2 separate regions of the Homo sapiens genome follow, and region 2 is linked to region 1. The links come from fine-mapping of genetic effects on gene expression. A gene starts in region 1. The other region holds a variant in brackets. All regions are shown on one strand. Distances are from middle to middle.

Region 1 (4,393 bases):
GCCTATAGTCCCAGCTACTCGGGAGGCTGAGGCAGGAGAATGGCGTGAGCCCAGGAAGCGAAGCTTGCAGTGAGCGGAGATCGAGCCACTGCACTCCAGCCTGGGCGACTGAGCGAGACTCTGTCTCAAAAAAAAAAAAAAAAAAAAAAAAAAAAACAAAACAAAATAAAAGGGATCCGTCCCATGAGAGATAACCAGAGAGGAAAGGGACTCCTGCCACGGGAGTGAGTTTTACATGGGGTAAACCTCCTCCAGAAGGCCAAAGACTTGGGGGAGGGGAGTCATAGACAGTGAACCAGAGGAGGACCACTGCCAGCAAGAGAGTTCTAAAAAAGCCCACAAAGGTGCATAAGAGAGAAAAGCCAACATTTGTGATTCCTCCTTGTCCATAGGGAACCGATTTTGGAAGGTAACAGCATCCTGCACTAACCAGGAAAGTCTGTGTTCTTTCCCTTCAATCCCTTCTCCTCCTGGGAGGAGGGGGTCAGAAATAGCAGCTAGCCAGTGGGAGAGGAGGAGCAAACTTTGAGGAGCAAAGGCAGGGATGTGGAGAAACCTACCATACCACTTTTAATATAGCAAGCTTCAAGTCTGAAGCAGGTAAAAGCAGGGGTAGGGGAGAACCTTTAGCCTGAATAAAGTTTAAAGTTTTGTTCTGTACTATATATTTTCTACTGCAATATGACTACTGTCATGACTGAAAAATACTTGAAAAGTGAAAGGATCTGCAAGAGATTTCATGCAGGATACAGAACTATGCATAGAGCAAGTGTGAAGGGGAAGCAGAAGAGTTTTCTGATTATACACCGTGTCTCCCCCTGTCTTGAAACACCCCAGCTCCTTTGATAAAAATATTCAGTATTAGAAATGGGTTGAGGAGTAAAAGTTGATACAGAATATAACAAACATGATTTAAAATTTATTGACTCCAAGTATCTATACACACTGATTTACATTTTTTTCACATTTATTAAGTCCCACCAAAAGTATGGGTAACCAAAATCCATATATACTCTAATAAAGACAGGGCATACACCTCTGGCATATTTTTATTATTTTTTTCATTAAAATGTTATTGGTTTCTTATTTTATATAAATTATATAAAATGTGAAGCTGGGTAAAAGTAGTCAACTAGTAAAAATTTTATACATTTTTACTGAGTATATGCCATTATAAGAACGTATGGAAATGGATATATATATATATGGATGTATTTTTTGAGAGAGGGTCTCACTCTGTCACCCAGGCTGGAGTGCAGTGGCATGATCACAGCTCACCGCAGCCTCAACCTCCCGAGTAGCTGGGGTACAGGAACGTGCCACCACACTCGGCAAATTTTTTTTTTTTTTTTTTAGAAATGGAGGTCCTTCTACGTTGCCCAGGCTGGTCTCGAACTCTCAGGCTCAAGCAATCCTCCTGCCCCGGCCTCCCAAAATGGTGGGATTATAGGCGTGACCCTTTGCGCCTGGCCCACTTTTGTATTTAGGATGCAGGGCCCTGAGATTGGCATCTAGGAAAATTCTGGACTTAGGCCAGGGGAGGGGGCATGCCTGGATCTCTTACAAAAACTTGCCACGCCTCCAGTTGGTCATGATGTGGGCCCCTGGTAATGAAGGACCTCCACCATGACCACAAGTACTTTAGTCAGAAAACAGCTCGAAAACGTGTGAAGAGAGTCCACCAAACAGGCTTCGTGTGAGCAACAAGGCTGTTTATCTTACCTGGGTGCAGGCGGGTTGAGTCCGAAAAAGGAGTCAGCAGAGGGTGGTGGAATTATCATTAGTTCTTATAGGTTTGGGATAGGTGTACAAAGTACATTCTTAAGGGCGGGGGAGAATATTACAAAGCACCTACTTAAGGGCAAGGGGGAGAATATATCCTGTCAGTTAGGGTGGGGCAGGAACAAATCACAATGGTGGAATGTCATCAGTTAAGGCTATTTTCACTTCTTTTGTGGCTCTTCAGTTGCCTCAGGCCATCTGGATGTATACGTGCAGGTCATAGGGGATATGATGGCTTAGCTTGGGCTCAGAGGCCTGACAACGTCTATTTTGGGTTTGATTCTGGCCCACCACCTCCACCTCGTACTTTCCTATCCTCAATTTCAACCTCTAGAAATTAGGCAAACTGGAAAGTAAACTGATGCGGGTCGTGTTGCTTCAGCTGGGGACAGGATTTCGGTGGGCGCTCCTGCCGGGGTCCGTAACCTCCCACACAGCTAACGTTTACAGGCCCGTTTATATTATCACGAATGGTTTTCAACCATTTCGTGTCCATCCCTAAATTAAGAGGCTTGAGGGGCGGCACGAAAGAGCGAAGACACCTCCGCACGGTCTCCAAACCCCTAAGTCCAGAGGCCTGGAGCATCCCCGGAAAACCAGATCCCTCTCCAGAGAAGCCCTTCCTTCCGCTCCGCCCACCCCGCGCGGAGGCCACAGGGGTCACGTGGCGGCCGCGGGAGGGGGAAGTGGGCGGCTCTGCGGCCGCCATCTTGAGGATTCGGAGGCGGGGCGTGCAGAGCTCAGGGCGCGCGCTTCGCTTCCCCTCCCCTCGCCCAGCCTCGCGCCGGCGTCTGTGCTCCTCCCCACTTTTCTTGGTTCCTGCGGCCGCTCCCTGAGTGGAGGAGCGGGGAACCCCGGAGGCGGGGGGGGGTGTGTCGGACGCGTGCTCGCGCCCTCCAACCGCCAGCCGCGGGGGCGCGCTCGGCCGGGCCCCCGGGGCGACGCGGGGCCGAGGGGAGGGGGCTGCTCCCGCGGCTGAGGCGGCGCGCAGCGGCCGAGGTGGCGGCGGCTGCAGCTGCGGCGGCGCGCTCCGAGCCTGCGTCTAGGGCGCCCCCGGGTCAGAGCTGTCGCCGTGGCCGCCGCTGCAAGAACCATGTACCGCAGCAGCGCTCGCTCCTCCGTCTCTTCCCACCGGCCTAAAGACGACGGCGGGGGCGGCCCGCGCAGCGGCCGCAGCTCTGGCTCCTCCTCAGGCCCGGCTCGCCGCAGCTCACCGCCGCCTCCGCCCTCCGGCTCCTCGTCGCGGACCCCGGCTCGCCGACCCCGCTCGCCCTCAGGGCACCGCGGCCGCCGGGCCTCGCCGTCCCCGCCACGGGGTCGTCGCGTCTCCCCGTCCCCGCCTCGGGCCCGTCGCGGCTCCCCGTCGCCACCGCGGGGCCGACGACTCTTCCCGCCGGGCCCGGCCGGCTTCAGAGGCAGCAGCCGGGGGGAGTCCCGCGCCGACTATGCCCGGGACGGCCGCGGAGACCATCCAGGCGACAGCGGCAGCCGGGTAATCCCACCCCTCGTCCAGGACTCCCTCCATCCCCCAGTCCCCTCCCCCGGAATTCCCGTTTCCAGAAACGCCCGGGGCCTCCAGACCAGGGTCCTAAGCGCGAAGCCTCCGGCCAACTCCCTCGGGGATGCCGAGCCTGGAGGCTTCTGTCAGACCCGGGAGCGTTGACACAATAACGGACTCGGGAGCGCACGGGCGTCTCGTCGGGAGTGCGCGCTCCGTTCCTTAGGAATAGGCTGTTTCTCTCATGCCGGGTGAGGTGTGGAAAGTTTGCCAAGGCGAGGGGCATTTCGTCCAAACCGTGTGTCTTGGTACTTTTTGTAGAGTTGATGTGTCCTCGGGGTTCCGTACTTTTCATCCCCTTACACCTGAGCTGCCTTCCTGGATCTTAGGGGAAAAAGCCGAAATGTCCGTTTTTGTGGCGAGTTAGGGACGCTTGAACCCTACCAGGCTTTACGTCTAGAGTGTAAACTGTTAGCTTAAATGAATTGGAGCTGCTGCTTCGGAATGAAGTGTGCAGGACCACAGTCACTGCCATAGCCACTACCTCTTATCGAGTTCTATGTCAGGAATTATGCCTAGCCTTTCACTTTGCACATTATTTTAACCCTCACAAGTCTTTGAAGTGAGGCAGTTAATACTATTCCTTGTTGTACAGCCGAGGAACCAACCCAGAGAGGTTCAAGTAACTCGACTGAGGTGACACGGCTAAGTGGTGGAGCTGTGCTTCAACTCAGATCCGCCTGGTTCCCCAAATCCATGATTTGAACCTCTATGTTTCACTGCTAGAGGAACGGAGCATGAGTTTAAGTTTAGTTTTAGAAATAATGTTGACCTTTAACCATAACCACCACCCCAAGAGATCCTCTAGGTAGAGTCTGGTTTTTGGGAATTTGTTTTATTTTTAGTTCATCAATCTTTTTATTATTATTATTATTTGAGAAAGAGTCTCACTCTGTTCCCCAGGCTGGAGTGCAATGGCATGATCTCAGCTCACTGTAACCTCCGCCTCCGGGGTTCAATCAATCCTCCCGCCTCAGCCTCCCAAGTAGCTGGGATTATAGGCGCCTGCCATCATGCCCGGCCTCTTTTTTTAAACTTAGTAACAAAGTTCTG
Region 2 (4,393 bases), 24 kb after region 1:
TGGGGGGTTCATATTTAGCAACTATGTTCATGTCTAGGTCACTACTGTGTTGCTAAAGTCAGTAAATACATTTTACTTCTCAAATGAGCAGCATTTGAGGCCAAGAATCACTTTCTCCTACAAATACTCTTTTCCCTTGGCTTCTGTCACACTTCTTTTCCTCGTAGTACATTGGATGCTCCTGCTTAGTATCCTTTGCTGTCTCTCTTGCATAATCTTTAAATTTTTGAGTTTCTCGGGGCTCAGTCCTTGCCAGAATTTGCTCTTTCTTCCTAGGCCATTTCATCCAGTCCTATGCTAAAATGCCATGTGACAATTGCCAGTTTTATGTTCTAGTCAAATGAGTCTTCTGAGTGTCTAACAACGTAACTCACCATTTCCACTTCATTATCTCATAGGCACTTGAAATTGAGCATGTCCTAAACTAAATTAATGGTTGTGCTCAACCTCCTTCCAACTTTTTCTTTCTCCATTGTTATGCATTCTCAATGAATGGCATACTGTCCGACAGTTTTCATGCCAACAACTTAAAAGTCACTCTCAGTGCTCTGCTTTCCCTAACTGCTCCATATGCAATCAATTACAAATTCTGTCAGGTCCCTCTCCAAAGTAAATCTCGATTCCATGCACCTTATCATCTCCATTGACATTCAAGTCCAAGCCACATCAGTTTTTGCTTATGTTGCTGTGTTAATTAACTCTTTTTGCACATATAGCCAGTGATCATGATACTTAATCCCTTGCCTACCTCCTCAACCTCATTTCATGCCTCTTTCCTTCTTGCTGACTGTAGTTTCATTACTAACCTTTTCATTCCTCAAATGTATCATCTCCTCTCGTGACCTCACATTTTCTGTTCCCTTTCTTTACCATGCAAATCGAACTCTTTCCTTATCTACTCTTCTAACTCCAATTCATCCTTTAGATTGGATCTTAAATTACTTCCCTGACATCCTTCTCTGATTCCCTAGACTGTTAAATTTGCCTGATATACACTCCCATAATATCTTGTAATTTTCCTTCTTAACATTTATGACAGATCTGATTTTATAATTAAATGTGTTCCCCTAATTTGATTTTAAGGTTCAAAAGTTACAGGGACTTTATATGTGTCATTGTTCAATATGATTCCCAATATATAGCCCAGGGCCCAGCACATAGTAATGAATACTGCTGAAGAAACATTATATTACATCTTACGCTGCGTCACCTCAAAATGCAATTTTCCGGATGTGCAATATCTGGTATTACACCTCTCTGGTTTTGCATAAATAATCCTATTAGCCTGGAATAATCTTTCTCCCAACCCCACTCACCCATTAAAGCCCAATTTGGATACCACCTCTTCCATGAAGAATTTCCAGAATTCCACCCAGATCTAGTCAGCCTTCTTTAGCACTCTGTAATTTGTTTCTTTGTAAAATTTATTTCGTTGTCTTATTTAAAGACTCTTCTTACGTCTGTCTCCACTAAATGAGAGCTGCTTTTTTTTTTTTTTTTTTTTTGGTTAAAGATGGGGTCTTGCTATATTGCCCAGGCTGGTCTTTTGAGACAGAGTTCTTGCTCTGTCACCCAGACTGGAGTGCAGTGGCGCAATCTCGGCTCATTGCAACCTCCGCCTCCCAGGTTCAAGCAATTCTTCTGCCTCAGCCTGCCGAGTAGCTGAGATTACAGGCACGTGCCACCACGCCCGGCTAATTTTTATATTTTTAGTAGAGACATGGTTTCACCATATTGGCCAGGCTGGTCTCAAACTCCTGACCTCGTGATCCGGCCTCCCAAAGGGCTAGGATTACAGGCGTGAACCACCCTGCCCAGCATTTTTTTTTTTTTTTTTTTTTTTTT[TTTG/G]AAACAGAGTCTTATTCTGTGGCGTGTGGCGTGATCTTCGCTCACTGCAACCTCTGTCTTCTGGGCAATTCTCCTACCTCAGCCTCCTGAGTAGCTGGAGTTACAGGCGTGTGCCACCACACCCAGCTAATTTTTGTATTTTTAGTAGAGACGGTTTCACCATGTTGGCCAGGCTGGTCTCGAACTCCTGACCTCAGGTAATCCACCTGCCCCCGCCTCCCAAAGTGCTGGGATTACAGGCATGAGCCACTGCGCCCGTCCCCAGGCTGGTGTTGAACTCCTAGGCTCAAGTGATGATCCTCCCGCCTCAGCCTCCCAAAGTGCTAGTATTACAGATGTGAGCCACCCCACCTGGCCCGAGAGGATAAAAGAGGAATCTTTTTTATCTTTGTGTTTCCCATTGCATACAATATGTCTAGCACATAGTACATCCTCAGTTAATATTGAGAGGTAGGAAAGAGAATATATTCTGTGTTATCACCCAAGCTCTATTTTTTTCCATGTCTTCCTAGGAGAGTTTTCTTTCTCAACCAGGTAGGCCTAGTCTTTTATACCTGGGTCTTCAGTCTAGGTAGGGCCTTTGATGGGAGAAGAATTTAAAAGCTCTGGTCCTTTGTAATTGACTTATACATTGGATTTCTATTCATGTACGAACCCAATGATAATCTGTCATCTTGATTTGGGTGCGTCTTCATGGTCTCTGAAACTAACGGATATGTTACAATTCAGTTTTCATCTCAGCAGTAAGGAATATTATGTCCACAGCCTTTCTTTCCTACCTGTCCTTGGTATTTCTTCTTTCTTTACCTCTCTTTAAAATGTATAGTTGGTTTGAGATTTTCTTTCCCTTTCTGTTCATTTCAGAAAAGCACATACAAACTTGTAATTTCATCTACCTAGAGACAACTGTTATTATTACTTTTTTTTTTTTTTTTTGAGACAGGGTCTCACTCTGTCACCTAAGTTGAGTGCAGTGACACAGTCATGGCTCACTGCAGCCTCCAACTCTCAGGTCCAAGCATTCCTCCCACTTCAGGCTCCCCAGTAGCTGGGACTACAGGTGCTCACCACCACCACACTTGGCTAATTTTTGTATTTTTGTAGAGTTGAGGTTTCGCCATGTTTCCAAGGCTGGTCCCGAACTCCTAAGCTCAAGTAATCTGCCCACCTCAGCCTCCCAAAGTGCTGGCATTACAGGCATGAGCCACTGGGCCCAGCCGAGACCACTGTTATTAATACCTTGGTGTATAATATTATTAATACCTTGGTGTATGTTATTCCAAATACATACACCAAGGTATTATTATATATTCCAAATACATTAATTTATTATTAATACCTTGGTGTATGTTATTCCAAATACATACACCAAAGTATTAATTCTGTCCATCAATTCACTTAACAAATATGTATTGGTCACCAATAAAGTGTCAGGAACTGGTCTAGATATGGGAAGTATCACACTGAACAGTATAGACAAGGTTCATATTCTCATTAAATAGCAGAAGATGATAAATAAATAAGTCCATGTTAGGTAATGAGAAGTGCCTAAAAAAAGAAAACAGGATAAGGAGTATAGAGTGGTTAGAGAAAGTATTTTGGATAAAGTGATATTCAACGCTGTATGCCGATTTACATATCTTTGTTGATTATTCAAGTGTATTTTATTAGTTTTCTCAGTATATCATGAACATCTTTCCATGTCAGTAAATACACTTCTATAATACCATTTTTAACAACCTTATTTTTTGTTGTTTTGGTTGCATGGTTAAGCAAAATTTATTTAACCAATCAAATCACCTGTTGTTTGACATGATAATTTCCATAGGATAAATGTCAAGGAGTGAATTGCTGGGTTAAAGGGTATACAGTATTTTGAGGTATGTAATGTATTCCTAGATTATCTTCTAGAAGATGGTGCCAGTTAATACTCCCACCAGGAGTGTATGAACTCTCCCATCCCCTGCCTGTCTGGTGTGATTTCTTTAGTGATTCTTGAATAGGACTCAGGTAGGGAAAGAGTATCTTTGAAGCCCCAATTGTTTCCCTTTCTGTATCCTACCTTTTTCCCTGCGTGAGCCAATATTCCAGGTACCCAGCTCTTCATCTTGTGTACTATAGAACCCCATTCATAGTGAGCCTCTGAGTTGCAAAAATTATCTTTTTTTCCTGTGCCTTACTCCTGAACATTAACCAAAATTCTCATTTCCTGAGTGCCTTGTTCCAGCTTGGTAATAAATTAATTCATATTAAAGTATTTGCTGTTGATAACTTTAATATTAAGAAGTTGATATATTTTTAAAAAGGATACATGTTAACGGTGTTAAAATTTTTTTTTTTTTTTTTTTTTTTTTGAGACAGGGTCTCACTTGTTGCTGAGGCTGGAGTGCAGTGGCACAATCTTATCTTACTGCAACCTCCGCCTCCTGGGTTCAAGTGATTCTCGTGCCTCAACCTCCCGAGTAGCTGGGAATACAGGTGCACACCACCATGCCCGGGTAATTTTTGTATTTTTAGTAGAGATGGGGTTTCACCATGTTGGCCA

Which allele goes with the higher level. Positions count from the first base shown, and alleles are read on the strand shown. Sizes are in standard deviations (SD) of each study's normalised expression.
As copies of G replace TTTG in region 2, the expression in Th1 cells of the gene that starts at base 2,594 in region 1 goes down (large effect, 0.81 SD a copy in Schmiedel 2018).

The links. PIP is the estimated chance that this variant, and not a neighbour inherited with it, causes the effect. A credible set is the group of variants that fine-mapping cannot tell apart.
Region 2: its variant is the best candidate, but not a certain one, in a credible set for the expression of ZNF318 in Th1 cells (Schmiedel 2018, PIP 0.75).

Annotation. Positions count from the first base shown.
Region 1 is chr6:43,367,848-43,372,240 of GRCh38, reverse strand. ZNF318 (zinc finger protein 318) reads left to right here and starts at 2,594. Exons shown (of 10, transcript NM_014345.3): 1 at 2,594-3,274. The coding sequence starts at 2,876. It overlaps LOC124901227 (atherin-like), which reads right to left and starts at 2,877. Exons shown (of 2, transcript XM_047419609.1): 1 at 2,854-2,877; 2 at 900-2,818. The coding sequence starts at 2,877. The coding sequence ends at 2,120. RefSeq lists silencers at 2,341-2,440, 2,631-2,830, 2,921-3,110, 3,121-3,190.
Region 2 is chr6:43,343,637-43,348,029 of GRCh38, reverse strand. All of the region lies in intron 6 of ZNF318 (zinc finger protein 318), which reads left to right. Among named protein-coding and RNA genes, the nearest start is that of ZNF318, 24 kb to the left of the region's middle. The variant TTTG/G (reference allele first, on the strand shown) is at 1,846.